Homo sapiens: one gene and its partners. The protein of the gene in region 3 binds, or shares a complex with, the protein of the main gene of each other region. Each region holds a gene or a part of one and is shown on either strand. Other genes may lie near its edges. The genes, in order: KRT7, THAP3, OGT and RBL2. A codon is read from its position in the direction of its gene.

Region 1 (7,639 bases), on a different chromosome or scaffold from region 3:
TGCCAATAAAGATGGCTATCTGTGTACTTACAAGTTCTTATTTGTTAGGGAAGGGAGATGTTCTGGCATGCACTATAGGGAATTTTTAATCCTCATCTTTAGAAAACCGGACTCTGTGATGGGATTTAGAAGACACCAGGTTGAAAGCCACCAATGGAGCAGCATGGTGAGAAGGTCTCTGGCCTAGAAATTAAGGTGCCTCAGTTTAGTTGTGTCTCTGCCATTTTTGTGAGCCATGTGTCTTTGCGTAACTCATTTAATCCCTCTGAGACTAATTTTCCCACTCCAGGAAAACTGTGTTGCTACACATAGTCAGCACTCTTAAAATCTCTTGAAATGTCTGTTGAATAAATAATGAACAAACAAATGAGTAAAGTGACTTGTCTAAGGTCGCCCTCAGTGTGAGCTGTGCCTGAGCCCACAGGTGTCCGGATGCAGCCTGATACTCCATCCAGGTTAGCACACCTCCCCCACTCACTCACCGGTCTCAGCACTCTGCACACCTCATGGAGACTCTGCTCCAGGTTCTTCACAGAGCACAGCACCAAGGTGCAGACCAGCATGTCCACAGAGCCATCGGCCACCTGGTGCGTGTTCTCCCTGGCAGCTACCACAAAGCGCTCAAACTGCAGGTGTTGGTTCTCTGCAATGCTTTTGATCAAAAACTTCTCAAAGTTGGGGTTGGGGTCAATACAGGTCACCCTGCACCCAGGTGGCTAGTACTTGAAGTTGGCCCCCATGCCACAGCCCACCTCCAGCAGGGAGAGCTTCTTGGAGGGGCCCACAAACTCCTGCAGGTTGCCAAAGAGCTCCTGCTTCTTGCTTGCCATCTGTTCTTTGTACATCACAGTGAACCTCACCAAGAAGTAGGGGAACCATTTTTGCACATCCAGTTCTACAAGCCCATAAAGTTCAGCAGGTACATGGGAAATGCTAGGATGTCAATGGCCAGCAACGAGGAGGCCCAGGAGACACTGCTGACCAAAGGCAGAGAGAAGTGCCCAGTGGCAAAGGGGATACCGCTCAGATGGGGATTGCATTGGTGGTCACACCCGACCCCAAGGATGTGGCTTTCTCCAGTAATGCTTTGCAGGCTAGAGCTCGAGGAGAGGAGTCTGAGGTTTAGGCTGAATAGGGCTGGAGATTTATCCACGTGGGGACTGAAGAGTCAGGGGTCAGAGGGTGAGAGTAATGGTCAGGGAGCCTGAGCTGGAAAGAAAGGTGAAAGGAGGGTGGTGGGTGGGGAGAAAACGGAACAGCCAAGTTCAGGACTGGGGGTGCTGGTGTAGCTGAGGAATCCACCAATGACAGTGAGAGTTATTATCAATGGTCCTGCAGTTTAGGATCTAGAATGTGACCTCAGGTGTAGGCAAGAGAAAAAGGATGCAGTGAAAGAATTGAGGAGCTCAAGGAACTCAAAGGGTAAGATGCTGGGTGGGTCATTTGCACTGAGAATGAGGGAGCCCGGGGTGGAGAGGAAGCAGGACCCAGGTGCCAGAGTCCACAGTGAGCATGAAGGGAGTCAGGTCAGTAGGTGGCTGTGGGGCCAGTAGGGATCAGCCTCAGGGGAGAGAGGCAGGAGTGGTGCAGCTGGATCACAGGAGCCCACAGGATTTTTAGAATCACAGTGATCTGTGCAATCAATATATAAAGGTTAAAAACTCAATCAGTATATAAAGGATTTTCTTTTCAACCAATAGCATTCCAGTGAATGGTCAATTCACTGGATTAAATGAATTGGTCAATTCCTTTAATCACTTCCCTATTGACAGGCATTTAGGATGTTTCTATTTTTTCACAAATATACCACATTCCAATTCGAATTCCAAGATAATGAAAAAATTAATATTTTTTTTCTTTATGAGTCAGAGGACGTGTTTTTAGGGGATAGACAATGAGTAATAGTTCTCTAAGTGCAGCAAGGAGCCAAACAGAATGCCTCCTCTCTGGGAAAGGAGCAGCAGGGGCCACTGGGGCAGAGGTGTCTAGGGCAGGTTTAGCAGAGCCAGGCAATGTGGAGGACCTGGGGCTGCTTTGAGTTCATAGCTCAGTTCTAGAGCATGAGGTGGGACAGCTAGGAGGGTGGTGGGAAGACAGTGGGGGTGTGCTTGGCTGTGTGTGTGTGACAGAGTGCTACGGAGACAGGAGCCTGCATTTGGGGCAGGCAGATGACCAATGGGGAAAGACTGTGGGAATAACTCGCCTCATGATTCTGCCCAGGATTTCCTAAGGTGGTCTTGGTGAGGCCAACAAAGTCCGGGTGGGGTGGAGACAGAGGCTGGATGGATGGGTGAGCTGTGAACTCTTGTGGGCAGGAATCTTATCTGCAGCCTCTCAGGTTGGCAGCGCTTTGGGAAGCCCTCCAGAGGATGTTTGCGTGTGCCACCTGGCACAGAGTGGGCTCTTAGTGCTGGCCTGTGAATGGAGAGGCAGGAGGAGACTGGCCAGGGCTGGAACGGCCTGGAATGCTTCAGAGAGGGGAGGAGAGGCCAAGGGGTGAATGTCAGGCAGGCCCTGGAATGCAGAAATGTTGCTCAAAGTGGCCCCCACCCACAACCCCAGATGTGAGCCTGAAAAGCCCAGAGACCTTTTCTCCTTCCCATTGTCCTCCCCAGTCCTCTCTAGGTATGGAATCTGGAGATTTCATCTTGGGTGAAAAATCCATGGCCCAGGGAGGGGCAGTGACATGTCCAGGGCCTCAAGGCAACAGCAGTGCCCTGACAAAGATTTCCCAGCCAGGCTTTAGGGGAGAAGTGGATGCAGGAACTCCTGGTCTAGGTGGGCACAGCCTCCAGAGCGCAGATCCTGTAGGGGGCTGGAGATGGGGACGGATGAGAGGGCCAGAGGCAGAACTTGTTAGTGGAGGTATGGGAGAGCAGGCGTTGGTGTGAGAGGCAGTGGTAAAAACAGAGTTGAAGATGAGCCCTGAGGGGTGAGGAAGTTGGAGTGTGTGTGTGTGTAAATTAAACAATTGGTCTTTTTTGCCTGCTTGGGCGTTGGGGAAGGAGGGCAGTGAGATTCCTATGAATGCAAATATCACAGGACCAGGTAATCCGTATGCTCTTCAAGCTACAACCAGGCACAATTCCAGGTCGAATCTCTCTCGGTCTTATGCACACATACATGCTCCACAGCCGATACCACAGCAGGTCTCCTTGGGCACCCCTCCGCCTCTGGCCTGAGCTGACCCAACACCAATGGCTAGGGTCAGGAGGGGAGGCAGGGAGGGAGGCTGGTGAGCCTTCACTAAGATCACTGAGAAGGAGTGACAGTCTTTAGCCTCACTGGAAGTCCTTGTGCTTTAACTGAAATGGCCAAGCAGGAAGGACATTCCGTCCCCACCCTTGTCTCCCCCAAGGGCTTAGGTCTGAGGTAACGAACCTGGCCAGCTTATTGGGAGGGGCTAGAGGTGGGCTAAGGGCAGACGGAAGCCAGGCCTGAGAACAGGGTGTGGCAAGCATGGCTGGCCCTACCGGGAAGTGAGGCCAACACTCAGGCTTTGTCCGGTATTCGGTTCCAGCACTAGGATTACCCCTCTTGACTGGGTTTGAAACTGCTGGGAATTGTTTGGTGGTGGCTTCACGGGAGAAAGATGATGAAAGCTGAGGGCCTTTAAACAGGAAAATGGTGGAGGGAGCGGGAGGAGAGTTGAGTGCTAACAGAAGCACACGCACTCAGGCAGGCATGAAAATGTGTGCCATTGTGTAGCCACAGCTGCCCCCTCGCCCAGGATGCACGCACAGACCCCCATCTGTGTAAGCAGGCTCAGACATGCGGGTGCATATGCCTGGGGGTGTGAGCACAGCAGAGCCCAGAGGCCTGCAGGCGTGTGCACACATCCACAAAGTGTCCACACATCCACAAAGTGTCACAAATACACACAAGTGTCCCCTTCCTGTACAGGGACGCATAAAATAAATGGGCAGGAATATGAGTGGAGGGTCCGGGAGGTGAGGGTCCAGGGTAAGCATTCCCAAGGTCCCTGGGATTCCGATGCCTACTGGAGTGGGGAGGGGAGGAGCCAGAGGTGCGGTCGGTCGTGTGTCTCTCTCAGCCTAGTTTCTATGGGAAATGAAGTAGGAAGGAACGCAGCCAGGGAAACTAGCTGGGCCAGGAGGGGTCAGACCCCTGAACAAGTGAGCTGATCTCTCAAGGAGGAGCTGGATCGGTGTGAGGGAGAGCGGTAAGGAATGCCTTTCTGGCTTCAGCAGCCTGGAGGATGGGGACGTCTGGGCGTTGACTCCTGGGTTGGAACTTTTCAGCCCACCCCTTCCCCCAGTCTCTTGCCACTGGGTCTCTCTGCTTGGGCCTCAGGGATCTCTAGGTTCTTCACTCCCTCTCCAAGCATCCTCCTCCGGGAAGCCTTCCCTCACTGAGTCCGTTTCCAATGGGCTGGAACTGCGGTCCCCCGCTGTTCTCTGCGGCCGTCTAGGGATGGCGCTCCTGCCTACTCCGGACCATCCCTGCTTGGACTGAAAGCCTGGGCTTCGGCGGGGCGGGCGGGCAGAGGGCGGAGGGCGGCCCCAGGAGGGGCCTGGCAGCAGAGAAAGGTGGCCCGCGGCAGCCCCGCCCCTACCTGTGGAAGCCCAGCCGCCCGCTCCCGCGGATAAAAGGCGCGGAGTGTCCCCGAGGTCAGCGAGTGCGCGCTCCTCCTCGCCCGCCGCTAGGTCCATCCCGGCCCAGCCACCATGTCCATCCACTTCAGCTCCCCGGTATTCACCTCGCGCTCAGCCGCCTTCTCGGGCCGCGGCGCCCAGGTGCGCCTGAGCTCCGCTCGCCCCGGCGGCCTTGGCAGCAGCAGCCTCTACGGCCTCGGCGCCTCACGGCCGCGCGTGGCCGTGCGCTCTGCCTATGGGGGCCCGGTGGGCGCCGGCATCCGCGAGGTCACCATTAACCAGAGCCTGCTGGCCCCGCTGCGGCTGGACGCCGACCCCTCCCTCCAGCGGGTGCGCCAGGAGGAGAGCGAGCAGATCAAGACCCTCAACAACAAGTTTGCCTCCTTCATCGACAAGGTGAGCGGGACTGGACCTCGCCTCTCCTCGAGCCGCGCTCCAGACCACACCAGCCGCCCTAACTAGCCCTGCCTGCGCGCGGGCCAGGCGCTGGGGAGCACTGCCGCCCTTCTGTCTTTCCGCCAGTGTTGGGGACACGATCTGGGGGTCCTTCCTCCTTCGCATGAACCCCGTGGCTATTTTATCCCCTCGGTTTCCAAGCCCTCCCTTCCAGCAAGCTGCCCAGCTGCCCCTCCCTTTCCTCCCGGAGTGCGGGCCTGAGTCCTGTAGGGCTGCCCTCGCTGGCTGCCTGTTGGTCACCTGGACCAGTTTTGCCTCGGACTAGGAGTTCCAGAGGCCTAGGCCAGGAGTTCTCTCTCTGGGACCCTTTCCCTGAGAGAGGACCGTGTGGAGTCAGGAATGGAGTTGGATGGCACGCCCTTCCCAGAGGGGGAGACCCAGGCTCTCTCAGATGCTGATGCGGATGCAGATGCTGGAGATTAGAGCGGCAGTCGGTGGGGCGGGGGAGGGGGGGGGGCTCCCGCCCCTCCCCTCCCCCACCTGCCTGGTCCTCCAGCCTCCCTTAGGTGGCAGGAGGAGAGGTTATACCTGCCCTTGAAGACAGCCCAGTTGGGGGCAGGGAGTGGCAGAGAGGGCCCTCAAAAAGGGGTCCATTTTGGAGATATTTTTCCTGGCTGTTGGCCTCCGCCACACATGGGGCCGCTGGAGGGGGCGAGGGCAGACTTGACTGGTGGGTTTGGGAGGAGTGCTGCCAAAGCCAGGAACTCAGGGCTGGCCCTGCTGGGCTGTTCTGGCCAGGGCCCCCTTCCTCAGCTTAGACGAAGTGTACTCCCACACCCGCCTCCCTCACGTTCTCCTTTCCTTCGCCATTCACCCAGACCGGTCTTTTAGATTTCATAGGGGCCTCCCCAAGCTGCTCCAGGCCCAGGTTCCCCCATGTGTTGAGCTGCACCGTCTTACTCTCTGTGGTCCCCAGGGCCTGGGGCCCTGAGCTGCTGGTTTTGCAGAGGCCTCTATTGCCTCCCACCTCCAGTCATACCGGCTACTCCTTAAGGGCCTTTGTGGGCTCCAGGCTGGGGTCATTTTACCATGGATTGACTGTCCTGAGGCCTTGCTGGAGAAAGGGGAAGGAGAGAAAGGATATTGAGGAAGGAAGAGAAGAGGTCCCAGACAGAAGGGAGGGCTGGGCCTGGTCATCCTCATGATCCATTGACAGGAAGAGGTGGCTGTTCAGATAGGGAGGTGGAGAACACCACCTGTAATGTGATGGGGAGTGAAGTGGAGAGGAGGCCCTGGAGCACATTCGTCGAGAGTCAACCACGGGGCACTTCCGTGCACCAGGCAGACCTGCTTCCTGGATCACTCTGTAGGACACTTGATTTGGAGTCCAAAGGGAGAGGGCTGGAAGCCCCAGGCAGGGAAACAGCCAGGGGGAGCATGGCTCTGCTAAGTGGCTAAAGATGATGTTCCTCAATCCCGCTGTGGGTGGCACGCTCTGGCTCCTCTTGAGTTTCCTCCTTCTCGCCCGTTCTAGGTGCGGTTTCTGGAGCAGCAGAACAAGCTGCTGGAGACCAAGTGGACGCTGCTGCAGGAGCAGAAGTCGGCCAAGAGCAGCCGCCTCCCAGACATCTTTGAGGCCCAGATTGCTGGCCTTCGGGGTCAGCTTGAGGCACTGCAGGTGGATGGGGGCCGCCTGGAGGCGGAGCTGCGGAGCATGCAGGATGTGGTGGAGGACTTCAAGAATAAGTAATGCCCCCTGTGCCACATGCGAAGACCCCTGCCCCGGGCCAATGTGACCCTCATGAGCTGACCCTGTGCAAGTCCCCCTGCTTCAGGAATCAGCATGCAGCTGCTCAGTCCAATAACTCCCTGAGGGGCCAGTCTTGACCAACACATTTCCTGCCTTTCCTCTCTCCTCTTTGTCCCTGGGGGCTGTTTCCAAATCATTCTGGTCTTTTCCCCTGACTCAGTCCCAGTGAAATGTCTCAGCCCAGCCCTGACCTGCACTGTCTCCTTTGGGTGTCTGACCAAGGCCCCGAGAGAGAGTAGGGCAGAAAGTGTCTTCTGACAGGGGTGCTTCAGAACTGGTATGACCTTCACAGATTATTCTAGAGCAACTCTCTTTTGTTCAGGTGAGGAATTAGAGACCAGAGAAGTTTAGGGACTTGGTTGAGCTCACACTGCAAAGGTCACTGGGAGAGCTGGGACTTGAATTTTAGGTCCCTGACTCCTAGGAGAGGACACAGAGCCAACTTGGGAAGCAAAGAAGCAGAGAGGGAAAATGGTCATTGTGAGCCATGCGAGGGCCGCAGAGGCTGAGGGTGGGTCTGGTCATGGCAGGAGCCAGAAGGAGGCTCAGGAAGGCTGGGACTGGGGCTTTTGAGGACAGGTCTTTTTGCACTCTTTTCTCATTGAATAGAAACAAAAGCCTGAAGCTCAGGCTGGGCCCCACCCTGGCACACCTGAGGGGCACTGGGGCAGTGAGTGAGTTCTGTCCCCTGCCTGTGGCTGTGTGACTAAGCAGGAGTCACACATTGGCTCTGACTGGAGGAGAGCAAACAAGGTCTCTGTGGAGTGCCCCCCCCCAACACTCCCACTTCCCTAGGGCAAAAGTCAACAGGATTAGT
Region 2 (7,717 bases), on a different chromosome or scaffold from region 3:
AGGTGAGATGGAACCTGGGTCCACCCTGGCTGCTGTGGGACCAGGCATTGGCAGGAAGTGGTAATGAGAGGGCAGACTTGGATGTATTTTGAAAGCCATGCAGTAAGGTTTGCCTGTAGATGGTAAAATTGAGAAGGAAGGAGTTTCATGTTGGAGATAAAATTAAGTTACAGGACGGCAGGTTAAGGGGATCAGAAGTTTGTTTTGTAGCAGCTGAGCATGGTGGCTCACGCCTGTAATCCCAGCACTTTGGGAGGCCAAGGCAGACAGACTGCCTCAACTCAGGAGTTCAAGACCAGCCTGGCCAACATGGTGAAACCCCATCTCTACTAAAGATGCAAAAATTAGCCCAGCGTGGTGGCGCACTCCTGTGATCCCAGCTACTTGGGAGGCTGAGGCACAAGAATCACCTGAACCAGGGAGGCAGAGGCTGCAGTGAGCCGAGACTGCGCCACTGCACTCCACCTGGGCAACAGAGTGAGAGTCTGTCTCCAAAAAAAGAAGTTTGTTTTTTATGTCAGGAGTTAAATTTGAGGTGCTTTTTAGGCTCTCCATGTGCTGGGGTGACAGGCGGCCACACGCATCTGGAGATGTCAGTGTGGCGGCCAACCCTGCGGAACCGATAAGCCTGGGTGAGATGGGCCCCTGGGGAGCAAGTGTGGCTAGAAGCCACCCCTGGGCCATGGCCCACACCCCAGGGCTCCAACACTTAGTGCTGGAAATAAGGAGGATCCAGCAAAGGAGACTGAGAAGAGACACCTGTGGCCAAGAAGTGTACCAGACGCCATGCGGGAAAAGTGACCCAGGCTCAGGGGTCAGTTGTGTGAAATGCTATGCAATCGATCAGTGTCACAAGGCTCACTAGTGATGTGACAGAGCTCTCGTGGGAGTGGAGGAAACGACTTCAAGAGAGAAGGCGCAGCAACTCCATCCCCAAGTACATACCTGACAGAGGCAAAACAGATAGATGCACTGCAACACAAGTCCCACCAAAACTGGCCAAAACAATGTTTGTTTTGTTTTGTTTTTTGAGACGGAGTCTCGCTCTGTTGCCCAAGATGGAGTGTAGTGGTGCGATCTCGGTTCACTGCAAGCTCTGCCTCCCAGGGTCAAGTGATTCTCCTGCCTTAGCCTCCTGAGTAGCTGGGATTTCAGGTGCGCGCTACCACGCCCGGGTAATTTTTGTATTTGTAGTAGAGAAGTAGAGACGGGGTTTCACCATGTTGGTCAGGCTGGTCTCCAACTCCTGACCTCAGGTGATCCACCCAGCTCGGCCTCCCAAAGTGCTGGGATTACAGGCGTGAGCCACCACGCCCAGCCTCCAGAACCATGTATTTGTCATCCAAAAAATGGGGCCACCCAAATGCCCTTCAATTGTAGAACAAATCAGTAAATTCTGGCACTTGCATTCAATGGAATATTATGTGGCAACGAAAGCGAATGAACTGCAATCCACTCTGATAGCGGGCAGGATAGGGTTCCCTTTGGGCAGGAGAGAGGAGGAGGGCCTGGGAGGGGGTCCAGGTAGGGGTTCTTCTCGGGGGTAGTGATGTTTTATTTCTTATTTTGAGATGAGGTATCGCTCTGTCACCCAGGCTGGAGTGCAGTGGCAAGATTATAGCTCACTGCAGCCTCGAAGCTGGGTTCAAGCGATCCTCCTACTTCAGTCTCCCGAGCAGCTGGGACTACAGGGGCACACCACCTTGCCTGGCTAATTTTTTTAAATTATTTGTAGAGGTAGGGTCTCCTTCTGTTGCCCAGGCAGGTCTCGAACTCCCAGGCTCAAGCGATCCTCCCGCCTCGGCCTCCCAAAGTGCTGGGATGACAGGCTTGAGCCACCGCGCCCAGCTGGTAACGTTTCAGTTCAGTGACGTTCACTTGGGGAAAACTCGCTGGGCTGTATACTTATGATTCGTGCATTTTTCTGCATGTACATTACGTATACTTCAAGCAAAGCATTTATCACAAAACAGAACAATGGGAGCAGAGGGAATGGGAACGATGAGCACAAGCCCCCCTTCGGAATGTGCCCAAAAGTGGGTAGAGAAATGGTGCCGTGACTGGACCTTGGAGAAAGCGCAACTGTGACTAATGACGATTGCTCCTGGGCCGGGCCGGGCCGGGCCGGGCGAGTGCTGGAGCAGACTCCAAAGTCTCCAGCGTCCTCCCGCGACCCTGCAGAGTCCCTTCCCACTGCCAGGACGCCCCTGGGGGTTCCACTCCTCCACTGCACTGCCCAGGTGCCGGGCTCCCTTCAGGACCGCGCGCGGCGGGGGCTGCAGCGACCAGGGACACAGCAAACCCCGGCCGCGGCCCGCTAGTCTGTTCAGCAAACACCTGCTCCGCTCCCTGCACGTCCCGGCCCTGGCCCCGCCAGGTGCGCCGCTGCCCCTCCGTCCGCCACTCCCCGCATCCCCGCGGCGGGCGCGGCGGCGCCAGCCCCTCTGGGCCCAGGACCTCGGCCTGTCCCCGGGCCCAGCGGCCGCACGCCTTTGGGCCTCCCGCCCGGCGCGCCAAGGCCTCGGAGTCGGTCCGCGGGCCCCGGGTCTGGGCCTCCCGCGCCCCCGGGTCCCCGCCTCTTACCGGTGGAAGGTGAGCTGCTTCCTGCGGCTGCTGTAGCGGTTGCAGCACTGCCGGGCCGCGCACGACTTCGGCATCTCGAGCCAGGCCTGGCTGCCCCCAACAAAGATGGCGGCGGCGGCGGGGCCTGCGGAGAGGGGAGGGACCTGCGGGGAGGGGCGGGGCCGCTGGGAGGTGGTGACGGGCCTGGCTCGCCTCCAGGGCGCGCTCATCCTGCCATCCCAGCCACCCGCGTCTCCCCAGGGTCGGACGGGACCCGGGGCGCCACGTAAAGGGGTGCTCCGGGCCCCAATTCAGGCCCGAAACCCCAACTCCTAGCCTTGGGCCTGTGCAAGTCTTACCCCATTCGCCAATGCTGGTCGCCTTTCACCTCCTTGCTTTGAGCACCCAACCAGGACGCATAGCCACTCACAGGCTTGGACAACTGGAAACCAACGGCCAACCCCTCAGTGTTTTTAGGGCTTTGAATTGTGAATAGGTCTGGACTCCTCTGACGTCACTGGAGGTGGTACTAGTTGGCCACTGGTGGTGTCAGTTCAGAGGCCAGACAGCTCACTGCCCTTAAGTTTGGTCACAGGGAACCCCCAAACGTGAAGAGGCAAAAAGGGCAACTGAAGGGGAGGGAGATTCCAGTTCAGGCCTTGCAGAAACTCCGAGGCTGCAGCTTTCTCAAAGCAGCCTATAGGGAAGGCGTCATCTTGTAAGAAGAAAAAAAAAAAAATCGGCCAGGCGCAGTGGCTCACGCCTGTAATCCCAGCACTTTGGGAGGCCGAGGCAGGCGGATCACCTGAGATCAGGAGTTCAAGGCCAGCCTGACCGACATGGTGAAACCCCATCTCTACTAAAAATACAAAAATTAGCCGCACATGGTGGCGGGCACCTGTAATTCCAGCTACTCGGAAGGCTGAAGCAGGAGAATCTCTTGAACCCGGGAGGTGGAAGTTACAATGAGCCAAAATCTCATCACAGCACTTCACAGCCTAGGTGACAAGAACGAAACTCAAGTCTCAAAAACAAAAAAAAAATCAAAAGTAGGCTAACCACTCACTGGGGCTTGAGCTAATCCTCAATCTGATGAAGAAACTGCAAAAACCATTCACATCTACTCGTCCTGTGGTTTGTTTCTAAGGAATTCACCAGCAAGGTACCTTAACACCGTGGGCATTTTCCATCCTGCTAAGTGCACACTGAGACGCTGCCTTCCCAGAGACTTGATGTAATCATGCTTTGGGGAGGTAGCAAGGAGAAAAGAAACACAATTGTCCTTCAGCACAGAACGCAATCGCCTGAACCTTGAATCATGAACCTCAAAGTAGCAATATATTTATTTACAAAATATACAGTTTCACAGAAACAGCTTCGCTTTATACACATAAACTTTAAAATTACACAGAACCATGTAAACGATGTGAAGTGTCTGGCCTGGCCAAAGCCAATGGGAGGGCCTACTTTTGGGGTGACATCCCTCCCTCCCCTCACTTCATTAGCCACCAACCAGGAACCACAGATGGGTCGTGCCTAATTTGCATATAAAGAAGCTGATTGCAGCTGCCCAGCTCAATCTAACACAAAAACCAAGGTGTCCGACTTCTTAGACACCACCCACAGGGACAGATCTGCTAAAAGAACAAAAATGCAATCAAGGAAACAAAATGGAGATGAGTATCACATGCATTCCAGAGGCATCGAACCTTCTAGCACACGTGACAGTTGCCAGGGCCGGCAGTTCCATTCTAAAGTCACATGGATTCTTAAATGCACCTTTAAAAGCTTGTGGAATTTTTTTTTTTCAAAGCAGAAAAACACTTTGGAGCGCTGGTTATTCACGTGGTGAAGACACTGGACAGGCGTTATCTCAGGGTAGATCTTTGGCAAATTCCTCTCCAATGCGTCCTGGCTGTTTGCCCTCGTCAGTTTCTAAACCAGCTTACTATTTTTCTCTACCGAACCTCCCCCTTGGGGATCTTCACAATAAACTGGCTTCAGAAACTATTTCTCTCTAGTTTCGTGTTAATACAAGCAACAGAACTTTTAAAAAAATAAGACGGTTGGACAAGTGTGAAAGATACTAGGACAAAAAAAATGCCTCTGATTAGCCAAATTACGGTTCAAGCCCCTTGGTGCTTCAGTGGGAGAAGGTGGGAAGAGTCTGCCTGGTGGCCTGGCACAAAGGTGCCACATGAAGGGGAAGCCCCCAGCAGTGAGAACGCGGGCCCATCCCACTGAAAACAAACATGACTTGCTTGAGCATTCTTCCCTTTCCATGCCTTAAAGAAACAATGCTTATGAAAACCTACCAATCAATTAGAAAATGTTTTGAGAACAAGTACTTGAACTGCTGAAGAGCAGTGTTCATTTCAGAGAAAGCCGGAGCCCCTCTCCCTCCCAGCCCCAGAACTACCAGTGTTCCAGGGCACCCTGCCCTCGAGCAGAGTTCTTCCACAGCCTCCGGCATCAACTCCCAGGTTTTTCCAGAGCTGGCCCTCACAGGGGCCTCCCAGGTCCAGGATCCCAGCTGAGATTTAAGGAACTCGGCACAGTTCCAAGGGGTCATCCTGAAGGCCCATGTTACCCTATCACTCACTCACCAACTCAAAACAGAAAAAGAAAGACTCAAGTCCTAACTGTACCCTGTGGAACCGGCAGGCCAGCCTGTCTAAAGGGCACACAAGAGTCACCCAACGGAGAGGGCTCCCTCCCAGCTCTCCTTTACCCTATTCTTTGGAGGAACACCATGCGGGTCCCAGTGATTGCCTAACCTTTATGCTGCTACCAGAATGAGGTGAAAGGAAGAGACAAAGACAGAACCTATGAGTTCCCACACTCGCAAACAGCTGGCCTGAGCCCACCAAGACCTCACACACCAACTAAGAGGGCACTCAGCAAGAAATCAGCCAATACTTTTGGCTGTATCGTGCAAAAAGACAGGGTTTTTACATCGTGCAAAACAGGAAACTGAGTTATGAACACGGGCCATCTCAACCCCCCAACCAACTCCCTTTCCACAGAGAAGTGGCCACATTGTCCCTTTTAACAAACAGAAGGAAACCTAAGAACCACCAGCTGACCCGCCAGCCCAGCGCCCTTCCAGGGGAGCCCGAGGCCTCCCGCCAGTGCCTCCCCCAGCCGGTCAGGCAGCAGCTGAGGCAGGCAGAGGGCAAGCCACTAAGTAGGGGCAACTTGGATGGCTGCTGTACAGACACTTTTGGTAAAAGACTTAACACTCAAGAAAAAGCTTACACGTATGGCTGTTCATTAACAGGCTGGGGAAACCGAACACCTCTCCCCAACACAGTGGAAGCAGAATAACAGCTGGCACTGAGCCCAATCAGCGGGAATCTCTTAGCAATGATAGCAAAACGCACAGCTACCACGGACCCTCATTTTCAAATGAGCCAAACCCGCTGCACGTGGGTGTCCAGTCCACCTCCACTGCAGGGAACGCAGCTCTGGCAGCAGCTCTGGCTGGCAAAGGTCGCATTCGGTCACCGGCTATGTACAGTTTCTACCTTGGACAGCCTGTCCTTTTGCTTAGGCACCTAAATGGCAGGGATCTGCCCGCACCAGAGCTGAGGGTTCTGTGCTCAACTAAGAGAAGGGCAAAAAAGCCCGCGGTCGCTTCCGATTCCACGCTCGCAGCCTCCTCGCCAGCCAGCAGTCAGTCCAGGAACAGCTTCCGGGAGCCCGTCCGCGAGCGGTTGGAACGGCGGATGTCAAACTTGGAGTCCCGGCACTTTTGGCAGACAAACACTTCTGGAACATTGGATTTCCGGATTTTCGCACAGGACAGGTGAATCCAGGTGTGGCACTCATTACACTCGATCATGGGGCGGCCGGCAAATGGCTTCATGCAGAAGCAGGTCACGAGGTCCCAGGAATCGTCATCTGGAAGGAAAGATACTCTCAAGGAGGGAAGAGAAATTCCCATCATTCCTCGCCATCAGCTGGGCTTCCATGAAACCCATTAACTCTACTGACGAGAACACTTCCAACTGCCACTCGAAGCTGACACTTCTCTCTGAAAAGGCACGAGGGGCTCCAAAATGTGTGGGAACCAGGTATTACCCAGGAGATGCTTACTTTTTTTTTTTTTTCCCTAAGACAGGGTCTCACTCTGTCACCCTGGCTGGAGTGCAGTGGTGCAATCATACCTCACTGCAGCCTCAAACTCCTGCAGTCAAGCCATCCTCCCACCTCAGCCTCCCAAATAGCTGGGACTACAGGCACACACCACCACACTCGACTATTGTTTTTTTTTTTTTTCTTGAGACGGAGTTTTGCTGTCGCCCAGGCTGGAGTGCAATGGCGCGATCTTGGCTCACTGCAACCTCCACCTCCTGGGTTTAAGTAATTCTCCTACCTCAGCCTCCTGAGTAGCTGGAATTGCAGGCGCGCACCACCACGCCCAGCTAATTTTTTCTTTTTTTTTTTTGTATCTTTAGTAGAGTCGGGGTTTCACCATGTTGGTCAGGCTGGTCTCGAACTCCTGACCTCGTGATCTGCCTGCCTCGGCCTCCCAAAGTGCTGGGATTACAGGCATGAGCCACTGCGCCCAGCCTTTTTTTGTATTTTTGCAGTGACAGGGCTTTGCCATGCTGCCCAGGCTGGTCTCCAACTCCTGAGCTCAAGCAATCCACCTGCCTTGGCCTCCCAAAGTGCCGGGATTACTGGTGGAGCCACCGTGCCCGGCCTGGATGCTTACCTGGATGCTTACTTAGAACTATACCCTTTTTATGTTCTAAGGTCTTAGAATCTCAGCTGTCTCTAGTGGCAATCAACCCCTTCCTAAACATCTCGATATCCACATTCCTGCAGCTTTTCTCCTCCTTGGACAGTGGGGCTGTCACACTCTACGGAAGGCACCAGACCCTGTGCCCCAGAGAGATGACCACTTAATAAAATAACCTCTCTTCTAACCACAAGCCAACAAGGGTCATCATCCTTCAGGGACCACTCACCTGAGTCCACCATGATGTCCTCATCATTGCCAGTGCTGTCCTCATCTCGGAACACCACCTGCTTTCCCTGCCGGACGATAGTCCGTTTGCCTTCAGTTTTTATTTCTTTGACCTGATCAGGTGACACAGTGGCACAAGATCCACTCGAGGGAGTATCGGAGTCCCAGCCCGAGCAGGGG
Region 3 (7,019 bases):
TCTAGAGGTCAGAGATCTTTGCCTTACACTCTCTTGATAGAGCTACTTATTTAAGCATGCAATATATTATTTATTGAGTACATACTACATTACTGTGATTAAGACATGGGCTCAGTAATTCAATTCAGTAGAGGATACAAACACAGGGAATTATCATCTGTTGTGCTGTATGTAATGATATATTCCAAACATTACAGAGGTATAAAAGACAGGTACCAATGAAGTAGGGATGGAGACGTTAGCGGTAAGTACGGAAATGGATTCCTGGAAGAGCTGTCTGAACTGAACGTTTGAGTAGGATTTAGCTAGGGAAAGGATGGGTTTACAGAAGCAAGAAACTGTATGGAATCTACACATAGTTCATCATGTAAGAGAGTAAAGCCACAGGCAGGGAATAACAAGATATTAACACAGCAGTTTCTCAGTAAGTAATAATCTGCTGGCTGAATCCAGGAGACTTTTAAAATCAGACACACCTATATAAGATGCACGTTTCCACTAAACTCATTTCCTCATCCATAAAAATGGTGATAATGATACTTGCCTCCTAGAGTTATCATGAGGTTAAGGGAAATAAATGCATACTTGGCGGGACATATAATGGTGTATTATTATCTTCTCACCTGAGTAGTTGCCAGTCCATTGCTAATACTGAATCCATTAATTGTTATTTGAATCTGTCCTCGGTTAATCATTTCAATAACTGCTTCTGCAATAGTATTCATAGGAATAACAGGCATATTAAGAGCTGTGTTACTGCTATCTGCATTGTCTCCTCCATCAGGACACTTCATCTGAAAAAAAAATGCATCATTAGGGAAAAGATCGTGAATGCAGTTAACTTTATTTCAATGACAATACTGACTAGGTTCTGACCTTGACAATTTTCACATCTGGTAGACTATCAAGAAATGCTTTGAGGTCGATGCCATTCAGAACTATCCGATTGTCATAAATGTGCCCATTGGACTTAAAATCGATGACTGCTTTTTTCTAATGGAAAAAATAGTTTCAGACATGTCTTTTAGGATTTACATAGACAATAGCAAGGAAATAAAAAGCTACAGTTCTTTGAAATTCGTCCATAGCACTGTTTCATACCTACCTTCAGGTGAGGGAACATATTAGCATGATCACCAATAAAAAAAGTGTGGGGCATATAAGCCAATTTCTCGGAATACTGCTCAGCAACTTCAGCTGGCGAAGTTTCCTGATCAGTGATAATATAATCCATGAAAAGCGCACCACTCGTCCCAGGGTATCCCAGCCACATTGCCTTAAAAAAATCAGATCAAAAACTGATTAAGAACTTTTATCAGTACACTTACCTCTAAATTCATCAAGTCACATACATTAAATATGTACAACTTTTTGTATGTCAACTGTACCTCAATAAAGTGGTTTTTAAAAAAAGAACCTAAAGGTGCCAAAATTAAATAAGTAAATAAACAAGGAGGTCTAACTCTTTTTTAGAGACAGGATCTCACTCTGTTCCCTAGGCTGGAATACAGTGGTGCAATCGTAGATCACTACAGCCTCAAACTCCTGGGCTCAAGCAATCCTTCTGCCTCAGCCTCCAGAGTAGCCAGGATTACAGGCACTTGCCACACGCACAGCAAGGCTGACTTCTTTAGCCGAAAGCAATGAAGCAGTTCTATAAGAGAGACTCTTACTCTGTCACCTGGGCTGGAGTGCAGTGGCATAGTGATAGTTCACTGCAGCCTCAAACTCCTAAGCTTAAGCAATCCTTCCACCTTAGCCTCCCAAATAGCTGGGATCACAGAGGCACACCACCACTCTGGCTAATTTTTTAATTTTTTGTAGAGATAGGGTGTTTTGCTTTGTTGCCCAGGCAGGACTCAAACTCCTGGTTTCAAGAGATCCTCCTGCCTAAGCATCCCAAAGTGCTGGGATTACAGGCGTGAGCCACCATACCCGGCCTGTATTTCAGACTAACTTTCAAAATGCTAAAATGTTCTTCAAATTTGCAAGACAGAGTAACTGTTCATAGCCAACCATGAATTGCATGTCTCTATATACATGTACCTATAAGCACTGTGCTCTACACTCTTTTTGTCCTGTGCATTTCAACAACTTAAAAAAATTAAAAGTATGTCTGCCCTACAGTTTCAAATATCAGTTAACCAGAGGGAGGAAAAGCAGCACCTCACTGTATTCTTAGCCAAATACATGTTATAAGTGATGACTGTTAATTTGTTTACCTGAATAGGAGCTGGCCTGAGAGCAAAAAGCTCATTTCGAGCGCCCTTAGTATAGCCATTCATATTTACAAGGATATGAATTCCATCCTGATGGATGCGATCAGCTGCTTTTCCATTGCATGGAATCTACAGAATACAAAATAAGAACTCACTATGTATAATCTCAGATCAATTAGTTTTAATGACATTTAGTTTTAATGGCATTTAGTTTTAATGGCATTTAACATAATTCAGATTCCCAGATGGAAAAGAGGTAAGAACACAAATTAACTACATTAATTCGGGCACAAATATGGTTGACTGTCATTAAAATGGGCCCAAAGCATTAAAGAAACAGAACACAAAGGAAGGAGAGTTCACTTCTGGATTGAATGTATGAATAACAACATATCACAGAGAAATTGGTATTTGAAATTTGTAATCTTTTTTTTTTTTTTGGTAGGGATGGGGTCTCACTATGTTGCCCATGATGGTCTCAAGCAATCCTTCCACCTCAGCCTCCCAAAGGATTATACACGTGAGCCACAGCACCCAGCCTAGAATTGGTATTTGAAAATAGGTCTTCAAAGACGAATAGGAGTTTGAAGGAGTTTAACAGAATACAATCTCAGTAGAGAACAGTATGAATGAAGAACTAGAGTAAAGTGTGAGGGAGTTTAGAAAATGGTGAGTAGGCCGGGCATGGTGGCTCACATCTGTAATCCCAGCCCTTTGGGAGGCCGAGGCAGGTGGATCACCTGAGGTCAGGAGTTCGAGACCAGCCTGGCCAATGTGGTGAGACCCCGTCTCTACTAAAAATACAAAAATTAGCCGGGTGTGGTGGCAGGCGCCTGTAATCCCAGCTACTCGGGAGGCTGAGGCAAGAGAATCGCTTGAACCTGGGAGGCAAAGATTGCAGTGAGCCGAGATCGTGCCACTGCATTCCACCCTGGGCGACAAGAGCAAAACTCCATCTCAAAAAAAAAAAGGGTGAGTAATTCACTTCTATTTAGTATAGGGTATACAAGATGTTGAATGGTGAGTTAAAGTATTGACAAAGTTGTGGCAAACAGAGAAAGGTTACAAAAGCTATGCTGAAGAGTTTAGACTGCAATCAATCAGCAGTGAGTCCCTAAAGGTCTCAGAGGTAGAAAGAGGTATGCTTCTTGGTCACAAAGAGTCCAACTGTGTATCAAAAATGGCCAGGTATACTTTTGAAGCAACAGCTATACTGCAAAATTTGTTAGTACATACTATTTATTAAATGAGAAGTCTCAAAACCTTTCTGCTAGGACTTCAGTGATTCATATATATATACACATACACATGTATATTTATACATATATGCATACATATCATACCTGCATGTGTATGTACATACATACATGTGTGTACACACACATATAAAGAGTATATTATCTCTATTAGTCAAAGTGGCTAATAGAGTCTACAAAGAAAACACTGTAGCCTACATACTCAGCAAATTAATTCCCCCATAGGTTTCAATCTTAATTTATCATAAAACTTACTCTCCTAGAGGATACAACAATAGAACAAGTACAGAAATAAAGATAACCAAAGGCAAAGGCCCATGGAAACTGATGAACCATAGTTCATCTATTTTTTCTTTTTTTTTTTTTTTTTTTGAGACAGAGTCTTGCTCTTGCCAGGCTGGAGTGCAGTGGTGCGATCTCAGCTTACTGCAACCTCCGCCTCCCGGGTTCAAGCGATTCCCCTGCCTCAGCCTCCCAAGTAGCGGGGATTACAGGAATGCACCACCACACCCAGCTAATTTTTTGTATTTTAGTAGAGACGGGGTTTCACCATGTTAGTCAAGATGGTCTCATCTCCTGACCTCATGATCTGCCCGCCTCGACCTCCCAAAGTGCTGGGATTACAGGCATGAGTCACCACACCCGGCCCTATTTTCTTTAAAAGACCTATTTATTCTTCTCCCAAGTCACCATTTTGTCAATATTTATTAAGTATCTTCTGTCACAAGTGCTGGCTCAATCTCCAGAAAAGTTGTATGTCCAAGCACAAGCATAACACATTTCAGTTTCATTTGCAACCTCGGAAAAAGCCATGCTGATTAACACAAATGATCAAGGAAATAAGATCAACACAATTGCCTATATGTGGTACTACAGCATTTAATACTTATCATCAAAAATAAACTATATGCTAATAGTTTTATTTAAACTTGCTCAAAATAAAAAGTTAAAGTATGAGAGTTTCATCTACCTGAGAAAGATCAATGAAATGATTGGCTTCTGCCATCACCTTCACTCGGAAGTTTGTGCCATCGTCTGGGCTCAGGGCATAACAGAACACCTGAAAGGCAGCACATGGCATATTTAATAACATTGGCTCAAATCTTTCTGGCTCAAATCTTTCCAAAAGACACTAGGTTTCCATGCCTCATGGTGACAAGCCAACATTGTGGGTTTTTTCTTTTTTAAACAAATAGTGATTCTAGAGAAACACTAGTCTTACCTCAAATTTATCAGGATTGTGCATGCCTGGAATAGACTGCATAAGGTGAGAAGTAGGATGATTCCCAAAGTCGGAACTCACATATCCTACACGCAGCCGACCATCACTGAGCTTCAAGTCTTTTGGATGTTCATATGGTGGTTTATGAAGAACATTAATCTATCAACAGAATCCAATGCTTGTTAGTAAAATCTACATAAATTTTCATCTAGGAAAACTGACGAAAAACACACCAAACCTATACCTCACACCTGTTGAAAAAGGTCTGCCCAGAGCATTTAGTTAATATTGCCAGAGAGATGCAACCTCAGCACTTTATGTAATATGCTTCATACTTTGACCTGCTCCTGAGATCTATAAAGCATGAGCAAATCCCAGCGCTCTGGGAAGCCAAGGAGGTGGATCGCTTGAGGTCAGGAGTTCGAGACCAGCCTGGCCAACACAGTGAAATCCAATCTCTACTAAAAAAAAAAAAAAAAAAAAAATTAGCTGGGCGTGGTGGCACATGCTTGTAGTCCCAGCTACCTGGGAGGCTGAGGTGGGAGAATCGCCCAAACCTGGGAGGTGGAGGTTGCAGTAAGCCAAGGTTGTGCCACTGCACTCCAGCCTGGGCAACAGAGCAAGACCCTGTCTCAAAAAAAAAAAAAAAAAAAAAAAAAAGTACGAGCAAATCTAACACTTGTAGGTATGAAGCAGTATGGACAGAGCATGGTTTCCTCCCGCATTTTAGAAAATTCTATAGGGAAACATTTTCTAAAAACAAAATTATGGCTGGGGGCAGTGGCTCATGCCTGTAATCCCAGCACTTTGGGAGGCTGAGGCAGGTGGATCACCTGAGGTCAGGATTTCGAGACCAGCCTAGCATGGCAAAGCCCTATCTCTACTAAAAATACAAAAATTAGCCAGGCGTGGTGGCACACGCCTGTAATCCTAGCTCCTCGGGAAGCTAAGGCACGAGCATCACTTTAACCTGGGAGACAGAGGTTGCAATGAGCTGAGATGGCACCACTGCACTGCAGTCTGGATGACAGAGACACTATGTCTCAAAAAAAAAAAAAAAGTACACCTAGCACTCCAATCTATTATCCAACCTTTGATCCAATCCTTGATCAAGTACTGCTCTAATTCTCAAAGGTGAATACAAAATACCAAGCACTCCATTAAACATGATGGCTGGCCAGGCGCGGTGGCTCACACCCGTAATCCCAGCACTTTGGCCGGGCGAGGTGGGCAGATCACTTGAGCCCAGAGGTTCAAGACCAGCTTGGGCAACATAGCAAAACCCCATCTCTACAAAAAACACAAAATTAGGTGTGGTGGCATGCGCCTGTAGTCCCAGCTACTCAGGAGGCTGAGGTGGGAGGATCACCTAAGCTCGGGGAGGTCAAGGCTGCAGTAAGCCATGATCACACCGCTGCACTCCAGCCTGGGCGACAGAGCAAGACCCCGTCTCAAAAAAAAAAGAAAAAAAAGATAAAAGAAAAAAAAATTATGGCTTTCAACTTAAAGAAAAGTACCATCAGTCTATCATTAGTGTTTAAGTGAAGGAGTTAAGGATTCCGTCTTATGAAGTGCAGGGGGTTATACTCAGGACACAATGGAAGGGGTTCTGAAGTGGCCCACAAAAGTTTTATTTCTCGACTTGGGTGGTGTTCACTTTATAATCGTTCATTAAGCCACAGATTTGATTTTTACAGTTTTCTGTATTTGTGTTTTAGTTTACAACAAAAAGATTAAAACAAAAGAATCACACCTTATCTAAGCACAGGTTGCCGTGCCTCTCAGCAATAGCCTTCCTGAAGCCATGAGAAAGAGGATATAGCATACTATGATGAGGATGCACAGAAGGCAACCTATTCTTCTCTAACTGGTCAGCCACAATACTGACCAACTTCTTCATTCGCTCATCATAGTCTGTCCAATCACAGACAATCTAGAGAAAGCAAAAACAAGTTATTATCCAGAAAGTCCTATCCCAGGATTTAATATTTGATATGTCTTTGGCCTAAAGTAATGTCAGATAGCCTATTAAAAATACTATTTCCAGTCAGGCTTGGATTCTTATGGCATACAACAATTAAAAAGCTATTACAACACTGAGAGCCAATTACTGGCCTGTTATTCTTTACCTGCAGGCAATGAGCCAAGTTACAATAAGCATCAGGAAAATCAGGCTTAAGTTTCAGAGCCGTGCGGTAAGAAGCTATGGCTTCTGGAATATTCCCTGAATCCTGGAAAATAAATAAAGCAGGATGGTAAAAAATTTCCAAAAGTTAAATTTTAGGTGTTAAACTGCACATATTATAATAAACAGTAGTACCT
Region 4 (7,019 bases), on a different chromosome or scaffold from region 3:
CCTCCAACTCTGAGGTTCAAGTGATTCTTCCACCTCTCCCTCCCAAGTAGCTGGGATTACAGGCACCCACCACCACACCCCGCTAATTTTTTTATTTTTAGTAGAGACGGGGTTTCGCCACGTTGGCCAGGCTGGTCTCGAACTCCCGACCTAGAGTGATCCACCCGCCTTGGCCTCCCAAAGTGCTGGGATTACAGGCACTCAGCCAGAATACCTCCTTTTATTTGTTTACTTATTTATTTATGAGATGGAGTTTCATTCTTGTCGCCCAGGCTCGAATGCAATGGTACGATCTTGGCTCACAACTTCTGCCTCTCGGTTCAAGGGATTCTACTGACTCAGCCTCCCGAGTAGCTGGGATTATAGGCATGCACCACCACGCACAGCTAATTTTTGTATTTTTAGTAGAGACGGGGTTTTGCCACGTTGGCCAGGCTGGTCTTGAACTCCTGAACTCAGGTGATTCGCCTGCCTCAGCCTCCTAAAGTGCTGGGATTACAGGCGTGAGCCAACCCGCCTGGCTCAGAATGCTTCATTTTAAATAGTCAATTCCCCAAAACTGTAAGTGAGCTAGACCAGATGCTTCTGTATCAGTGGTGCCATCTATATTAAAATGTAAATAGTTCTAGTTTTTTTAAATTTTTTTTCCTCCTGGTTTGTCATTCCCCCATTTTATTTTTAAAAGGTTACACTTAATGTAAACATCCTTCACAGTCTGGGAAAACTTTTATATTTAAAGAGAAGCAAACATTATTTATTCTAGCCAAATAATTTTAACTCCTTTCCCTTTACTTTTCTTGTCAACATTTTTCTAATTGTTAGAATTTTCATTTCTACTTTATGAAAAAACTTTCAATGATAAAGAAGGAAAATGTGTATTCCATAACTGCCTTTATCTATCAGGAAAGGTAGAAAACACTGAGTCAGAGCATGCTTATAGACTTTGCAGAAGTGATCAGAAAGCACAAATTCATAATAGTTTCAGTTCTCCTGTCTTTTCCCAATCCAGTCTCTCTATTCTGAATTCATTATAAACATCAAAATACATAGAGAAGTCATTTCAAGGGGATTATTTATTACTCAGTTTGACATAAAATAGTCTATATAATCACTAGTAGAAAATATAGTGGTTAATATAGTGATCTATATCTAGGGCAGTGCTCCCTTCGGCAGCACATATACTAAAATTGGAACAATACATTGATTAGCATGGCCCCTGCGCAATAAAAAATATATATATCCAGATACAGATACAGATACATCTCCAAGGCGGCGAAAGGGTGAAAATCCCTAAGTCTGACTTGTACAGTCTGCATTTTTTGTTGCTTAAATGAAAAAGGAAGGTTTCAGAACAAGGATCACTGAGGAAAAAATAATAATAAAATAAAATAAGACAAATGAAAGTTTATAGAAACAAAGACCTGTATACATTTAGCAATATGAAAAAAGCCACTCTTCATGGCTAACCCACAATGAAAAGCAAAAAAAGCATCATTAAAAGAAAACGACTGAGGAAAAAGATTTTTTAAATCTTATTTCTTTTTTAAAACCAGAAAAAAAAAACCTAGCAGAATATCAACACTGCAGCACAGACTAACGTGTATTCCTGATGAACCAACAAGAAAACCTACCGCTGTTTCCTTCCTCGCTGCTGACGAGGTTGCTCCTCTTGAGGGTATTTAAAGATGTCCTGAAAAATGGGTTCATATTTCTTAAAAATTACAGCAGAAACAGTGAAGTTTCTTTCTAATCTCTCAGTACGTTCTCTGAAATGTGGGGGTAGATTTGCCATGTCTTCCCACTTCTTCATCTTATTAAAAAATTCGATTAAGCTGGTATTAAAGACAAACAAGATATTTCATAATTAACATAAGGCTAAAGTATACAAAAGTAAGTATTCAAAAGTAAATCAATATTATCGCATTAAATTATATTACTTTTAGACAGTGAAATAAAATCACAACTCATGTCTCTGACTAGCTTAATTTCTTACAGATTGGTATATTCCTCTGATCCTCCTAATCCATTTTGTTTAGGTTACCTAAAGTATTTGTTAACTATGAAATATTTGAAAATACAAACCAAAATTAACAAGAGTAACCTAACCAACATTCACGTTGGTTCACTGCCAGATTTTTTAAATGTTAATATATTAAATAAATTTTGTCGTTTTTGTTTTTGTAAGAGATAGGGTTTCGTTCTATCACCCATGTTGGAGTTCAGTGGCAAGATCACAGCTCACTGCAGACTCCTGGGCTTGAGTGATCCTCCTACTTTGGCTTCCTAGAACACTGTGATTACAGGTGTGAGCCACCTCCTCCTGCCACTTCAGATTTTTTTTTAAACTAGCAACACTATAGAAGCAGTCAAGGCTAGGCGCAGTAGCTCACACCTGTAATCCCAGCACTTTGGGAGGCCGAGGTGGGAGATTCACAAGGTCAGGAGTTTGAAACCAGCATGGCCAACATGGTAAAACCCGATCTCTACTAAAAATACAAAAAATTAGCTGGGCGTGGTGGCGGGCACCTGTAATCCCAGCTACTCAGGAGGCTGAGGCAGGAAAATCACTTAAACCTGGGAGGCGGAGGTTGCAGTGAGCCGAGATCACGCCACTGCACTCCAGCCTGGCGACAATGCGAGACTCTGTCTCAAAAAAGAAAAAGAAAAAGAAAAAGAAACAGTCAAAATTACCATTTTATACTCCTCCCTAATCCCATCCTTACCCTTCTACCCCAAAGATAAAAACCATTCTAAAGTTGGTCTTAATCCTTCCTATGTTTTCACACTTACTACACATACACATGTATGTGTAAACAATAAGCAATATCTTATTACGTGTTTTTACATTTTATATAAATGCTATCATACTTCAGTGGTATTCTGCAACTTGCTTTTTCACACTCAATAATGTTTCTGACATTAATGTTGATATGTAAGATATATTCATTTTAATTGCTAAAAACATTCTTTCATATGAACATACAATGACTTTTTGCATTCACTCCCCAACCAATGGAAATTTAGGTTGTTTCTAATATTCCATGATAACAAAACATGTTGTAATGAAAACATCCTTATACATGTGTGCAGGAGTTTCTTTGGGGACTACTCCAAGAAGTACAGTAAGAGAATGTGCACCTTCAATATTACTAGATACCACCAAATTTGCTAGTAAAGTAGTTGTGTCAATTTTGACTCTCACCAATGTACACCAGCAATATAGAGTTCCTGCCTGAGCGCAGTGGCTCATGCCTGTAATCCCAGCACTTTGGGAGACCGAGGCAGGTAGATCACTTGAGGTCAGGAGTTCGAGACTAGCCTGGTCAACACGGTGAAACCTGGTCTCCACAAAAAATACAAAAATTAGTCAGGTATAGTGGTATGTGCCTTTATCCCAGCTACTCCGGGAGGCTGAAGCATGAGAATCACCTGAACCTGGGAAGTGGAGGTTGCAGTGAGTAGAGATTGAGCTACTGCACTCCAGCCTGGGCAGCAGAGTGAGACTCCATCTCAAAAAAAAAAAAAAAAAAAAAAAAGAACTGAAAAATAAAAAAAATAGAGTTCCTGTTTCCCTGTACAGTGACCAAACTTGGTATACCAGACTTCAAATTTTCCCAATGATAAGAATAAAATGTTGGCCAGGCATGGTGGCTCACACCTGTAATGCCAGCACTTTGGGAGTCCAAGGCGGGTGGATCACCTGAGGTCGGGAGTTGGAAACCAGCCTGGCCAACATGGTGAAACCCGTCTCTACTAAAAATACAAAAAATTAGCCAGGTGTGGTGGTGCGCATCTGTAATCCCAGCTACTTGGGAGGCCACAGCGGGAGAATCGTTTGAACCTGGGAGGCAGAGGCTGCAATGAGCTGAGATCACGCCCCTGCACCCTGGCCTGGGTGAAACAGCAAGACTCCATCTCAAAAAAAACAGAATGAAATGTTATCTTTCTACTTTGAAAGTCTTTATTAGTGACAGTGAATATCTCTTCCTGTATCTATTAGCTATGTGAATTATAACCTTTGTGAAGTCATGTTCTTTATTCATTTTATTAACCCTGTTAGTAGTTCCTGATATAATTCTAGATACTGATTCTTTGGTCAATGTAACTCAGGATGGAGTTAAAGGTTAAAAAAAGATTACTAAAATTCACAACGTCAGCTAAAACATGACATTGTGAATTATTTTATTTTATTTATTTGTTTTGAGATGGAGTCTCGCTCTTGTCACCCAGGCTGGAGTGCAATAGTGCTCACTGCAACCTCTGCCTCCTGGGCTCAAGTGATTTTCCTGACTCGGCTTCCTGAGTAGCTAAGATTACAGGCGCATGTCACCACACTCGGCTAATTTTTGTATTTTTAGTTGAGACGGGGTTTCACCATATTGGCCAGGCTGATCTCCAATTCTTGACCTCAAGTGATCCACACACCTTGGCCTCCAAAAGTGCTGGGATTACTGGGATTACAGGTGTGAGCCACCGCCCCCAGCCTGCTAATTATTTTAATAGTAACCTTCTTTTTTTTTTTTTTTTTTTTTTTTGGAGACAAGGTCTTGCTCTGTGGCCCAGGCTGGAGTGCAGTGCTGCTCCATCATTCAGGGCTCAAGTGATCCTCCCATCTCAGCCTCCCAAGTAGCTAGGCCTGCAGGTATGCACAACCACACCCAGTTAATTTTTTTATTTAGTAAGTGATTTTTTAACCATTAACTCCATAAATTTTGACAGTGGTAATTTCCCCCAAAATGCTAAACATCATTTTTCCACTTATCTTTAATAAGCCATGTAAGAAAATTCACCTAAAAGGCACAAAAAATAAATGTAATCAATTTAATTACACAACAGATAAAGCAATTTCTGCCTCTTCTTTTAAACATATTTGACCCTTTCTAAAATGGATTATAATCATGTCATTTATCCTCCAAACAGGAAACTGAGAAATACTTACATGTTCCATTTATATTAAGACCACAAGTCCTGTGCACATATTTCTAAGTATAATAGCAAATAATATTTTATTTACCTTTTCAACTTGGAGTATCTCCTAAAGTTTCTCAATATCCTTCATTTCTCCCAATATTACACAATGTCCTAAACTTTAAAAATAAATTCTGCCATACAAGTGCCTAAAACATTAAAATTTAAATATTTTCACCAAAGAAGTAAAATATAATGGATATTAACTGTGATATAAAGAAAGGAAAATCATTAGATGCTAGTTTTAGCATCTAATTTCACCAGTCCACAGGTACAAATGCTCAGAAAATGATAAACAGAGATAATTCTTACTATCACTATGATTTATGAGCTTACATTAGCCATACTCTACTTGTCAAACTCTAACATAGTTACCTCTGCTCTGAACATTTCAGGATTCTAGTTAAAGATACATAGTTTCCTTCCACTGTCCCTTTGCTTACAGTTGGAACAGATTTTCTGCAAGCCACATATAAGGCACATGCTAACCAATGAAGATCATTTCCCTGTAAAAGAAAAGAAAATTGATTTTTAGTTAAAAAGCTACATATAAATATTTCAATATTTTTAAAAGTATGTTTAAATTGAAAGTGTTGTTTATATTTTTGTGGGAAACTTAGTTTCAATGATGACCCTATCTCATACGCTCTTTTTTTTTTTTTTTTTTTTTTTTTTTTTGAGATGGAATCTTGCTCTGTCACCCAGGCTGGAGTGCAGTGGCGCAATCTTGGCTCACTGCAACCTCCACCTCCCAGGTTCAAGCACTCCTCCTACCTCAGCCTCCCAAGTAGCTGGGACTACAGAAGTGCGCCACCATACCTGGCTAATTTTTGTATTTTTTGTAGAGACAGGGTTTTGTCATGTTGCCCAGGCTGGTCTTGAACTCCTGGCCTCAAGTGATCCATCCGCCTTGGCCTTCCAAAGTGCTGGGATTACAGGTGTGAGCCACTGTACCCAGCCCCGTAGGCTCTTCTTATAATGTGACATTAACATTATTCCACTGAGAGGTAGAGAGGGTTCCCTCACCTTGGACCTGGGCAAGGGTCTGCGTTCCCTCACACTGATTAACTGTCTCTATCAATAATTGCAGAGGTAGAAGTGAAACTATGTAATTCTAAAAGATTATACAAGGCAGTATAGATTCCACTTGGTTCTCTCTCTTAGGACATGTGCCTTCGGAGTCCTGAACCAACATGTAAGAATTTAGCTACCCTGGATCACCATGCTGGTGAGACCACATGGAACAAACATACAGAGATGCCCAACGAGCTCCAGCTGTGCCAGTACCTAGTTGCTCAAGTCTTCCAGGTGAGGTACCAGTCATTTTGACGCAGAAACATGACATCCACACTGTCCCCAGCCTGAATTCCTTACTCACAGAACCTGTGACCAAAACAAATTGCTTTCTGCCCCTAAGTTTTAAGGCAATTTGCTATATAGCCATAGTAATGCAAACAATATTATTGTTTATTTTTATTTATTTTTTATTTTTTTTGAGATGGAGTCTCACTGTGTCACCCAGGCTGGAGTACAGTGGCTCCATCTTGGCTCACTCCAAGCTCTGCCTCCCAGGTTCACACCATTCTCCTGCCTCAGCCTCCTGAGTAGCTGGGACTACAGGTGCCCACCACCACGCTCAGCTAATTTTTTGTATTTTTAGTAGAGACTGGGTTTCAATGTGTTAGCCAGGATGGTCTTGATCTCCTGACCTCGTGACTCGCCCACCTAGACCTCCCAAAGTGCTGGGATTACAGGCGTGAGCCCCTGCGCCTGGCCTATTGTTTATATTTTTAATCTTGCTCAAAATCTAGAAAAGTGATAGAAATACAAAATTAAGCTTGAATGGATATTCAGCCACTAATTTTATACCTAATCAAAACACATACATGAATACATAAAATTTATTTGTATAACCAAATGAGACTATTGTGGATCCACTACCAGATATCATTCAAAAATAATAATTTTTAAGGCATTGTTTGTAAAAGATCGTCACAATTCTTTTTACTCAAGAAGTGATACAACTTTCCTCTCCCTATAAAAGCGAGGAA

The links.
Region 1: the proteins of OGT (region 3) and KRT7 are in contact, whole or in part, in a crystal structure (PDB 4XIF), measured with the Homo sapiens proteins. Residues at the interface, in NP_858058.1 of Homo sapiens: His506 (codon at 6,537), His508 (codon at 6,531), His509 (codon at 6,528), Asn567 (codon at 4,760), His568 (codon at 4,757), Pro569 (codon at 4,754), Tyr642 (codon at 2,276), Thr643 (codon at 2,273), Lys644 (codon at 2,270), Gln849, Phe878, Val905, Ala906, Pro907; in NP_005547.3 of Homo sapiens: Val9 (codon at 4,713), Phe10 (codon at 4,716), Thr11 (codon at 4,719), Ser12 (codon at 4,722), Arg13 (codon at 4,725), Ser14 (codon at 4,728), Ala15 (codon at 4,731).
Region 2: OGT (region 3) and THAP3 share a complex: the UniProt entries of both Homo sapiens proteins name them as parts of the THAP1/THAP3-HCFC1-OGT complex.
Region 4: the proteins of OGT (region 3) and RBL2 are in contact, whole or in part, in a crystal structure (PDB 4XI9), measured with the Homo sapiens proteins. Residues at the interface, in NP_858058.1 of Homo sapiens: His506 (codon at 6,537), His508 (codon at 6,531), His509 (codon at 6,528), Asn567 (codon at 4,760), His568 (codon at 4,757), Pro569 (codon at 4,754), Tyr642 (codon at 2,276), Thr643 (codon at 2,273), Lys644 (codon at 2,270), Gln849, Phe878, Val905, Ala906; in NP_001310537.1 of Homo sapiens: Thr417, Pro418, Val419, Ser420, Thr421, Ala422.

Annotation. Positions count from the first base shown.
Region 1 is NC_000012.12:52,228,609-52,236,247, forward strand, and holds the start of KRT7 (keratin, type II cytoskeletal 7), read left to right. Parts: upstream 1-4,634; 5' UTR 4,635-4,688; coding exon 4,689-5,012; intron 5,013-6,546; coding exon 6,547-6,758; intron 6,759-7,639.
Region 2 is NC_000001.11:6,620,159-6,627,875, reverse strand, and holds the start of THAP3 (THAP domain-containing protein 3), read right to left. Parts: upstream 3,009-7,717; 5' UTR 2,922-3,008; intron 2,727-2,921; 5' UTR 2,658-2,726; coding exon 2,584-2,657; intron 1-2,583. Other genes in the region: PHF13 (PHD finger protein 13), read right to left, coding at 6,239-6,465, 7,539-7,717. UniProt on the Homo sapiens protein: Component of a THAP1/THAP3-HCFC1-OGT complex that is required for the regulation of the transcriptional activity of RRM1.
Region 3 is NC_000023.11:71,557,104-71,564,122, reverse strand, and holds part of OGT (UDP-N-acetylglucosamine--peptide N-acetylglucosaminyltransferase 110 kDa subunit), read right to left. Parts: coding exon 7,018-7,019; intron 6,929-7,017; coding exon 6,827-6,928; intron 6,631-6,826; coding exon 6,451-6,630; intron 4,857-6,450; coding exon 4,698-4,856; intron 4,536-4,697; coding exon 4,446-4,535; intron 2,349-4,445; coding exon 2,223-2,348; intron 1,277-2,222; coding exon 1,106-1,276; intron 994-1,105; coding exon 877-993; intron 795-876; coding exon 624-794; intron 1-623. UniProt on the Homo sapiens protein: Catalyzes the transfer of a single N-acetylglucosamine from UDP-GlcNAc to a serine or threonine residue in cytoplasmic and nuclear proteins resulting in their modification with a beta-linked N-acetylglucosamine (O-GlcNAc).
Region 4 is NC_000016.10:53,437,471-53,444,489, reverse strand, and holds part of RBL2 (retinoblastoma-like protein 2), read right to left. Parts: intron 5,475-7,019; coding exon 5,344-5,474; intron 1,833-5,343; coding exon 1,632-1,832; intron 1-1,631. UniProt on the Homo sapiens protein: Key regulator of entry into cell division. Directly involved in heterochromatin formation by maintaining overall chromatin structure and, in particular, that of constitutive heterochromatin by stabilizing histone methylation.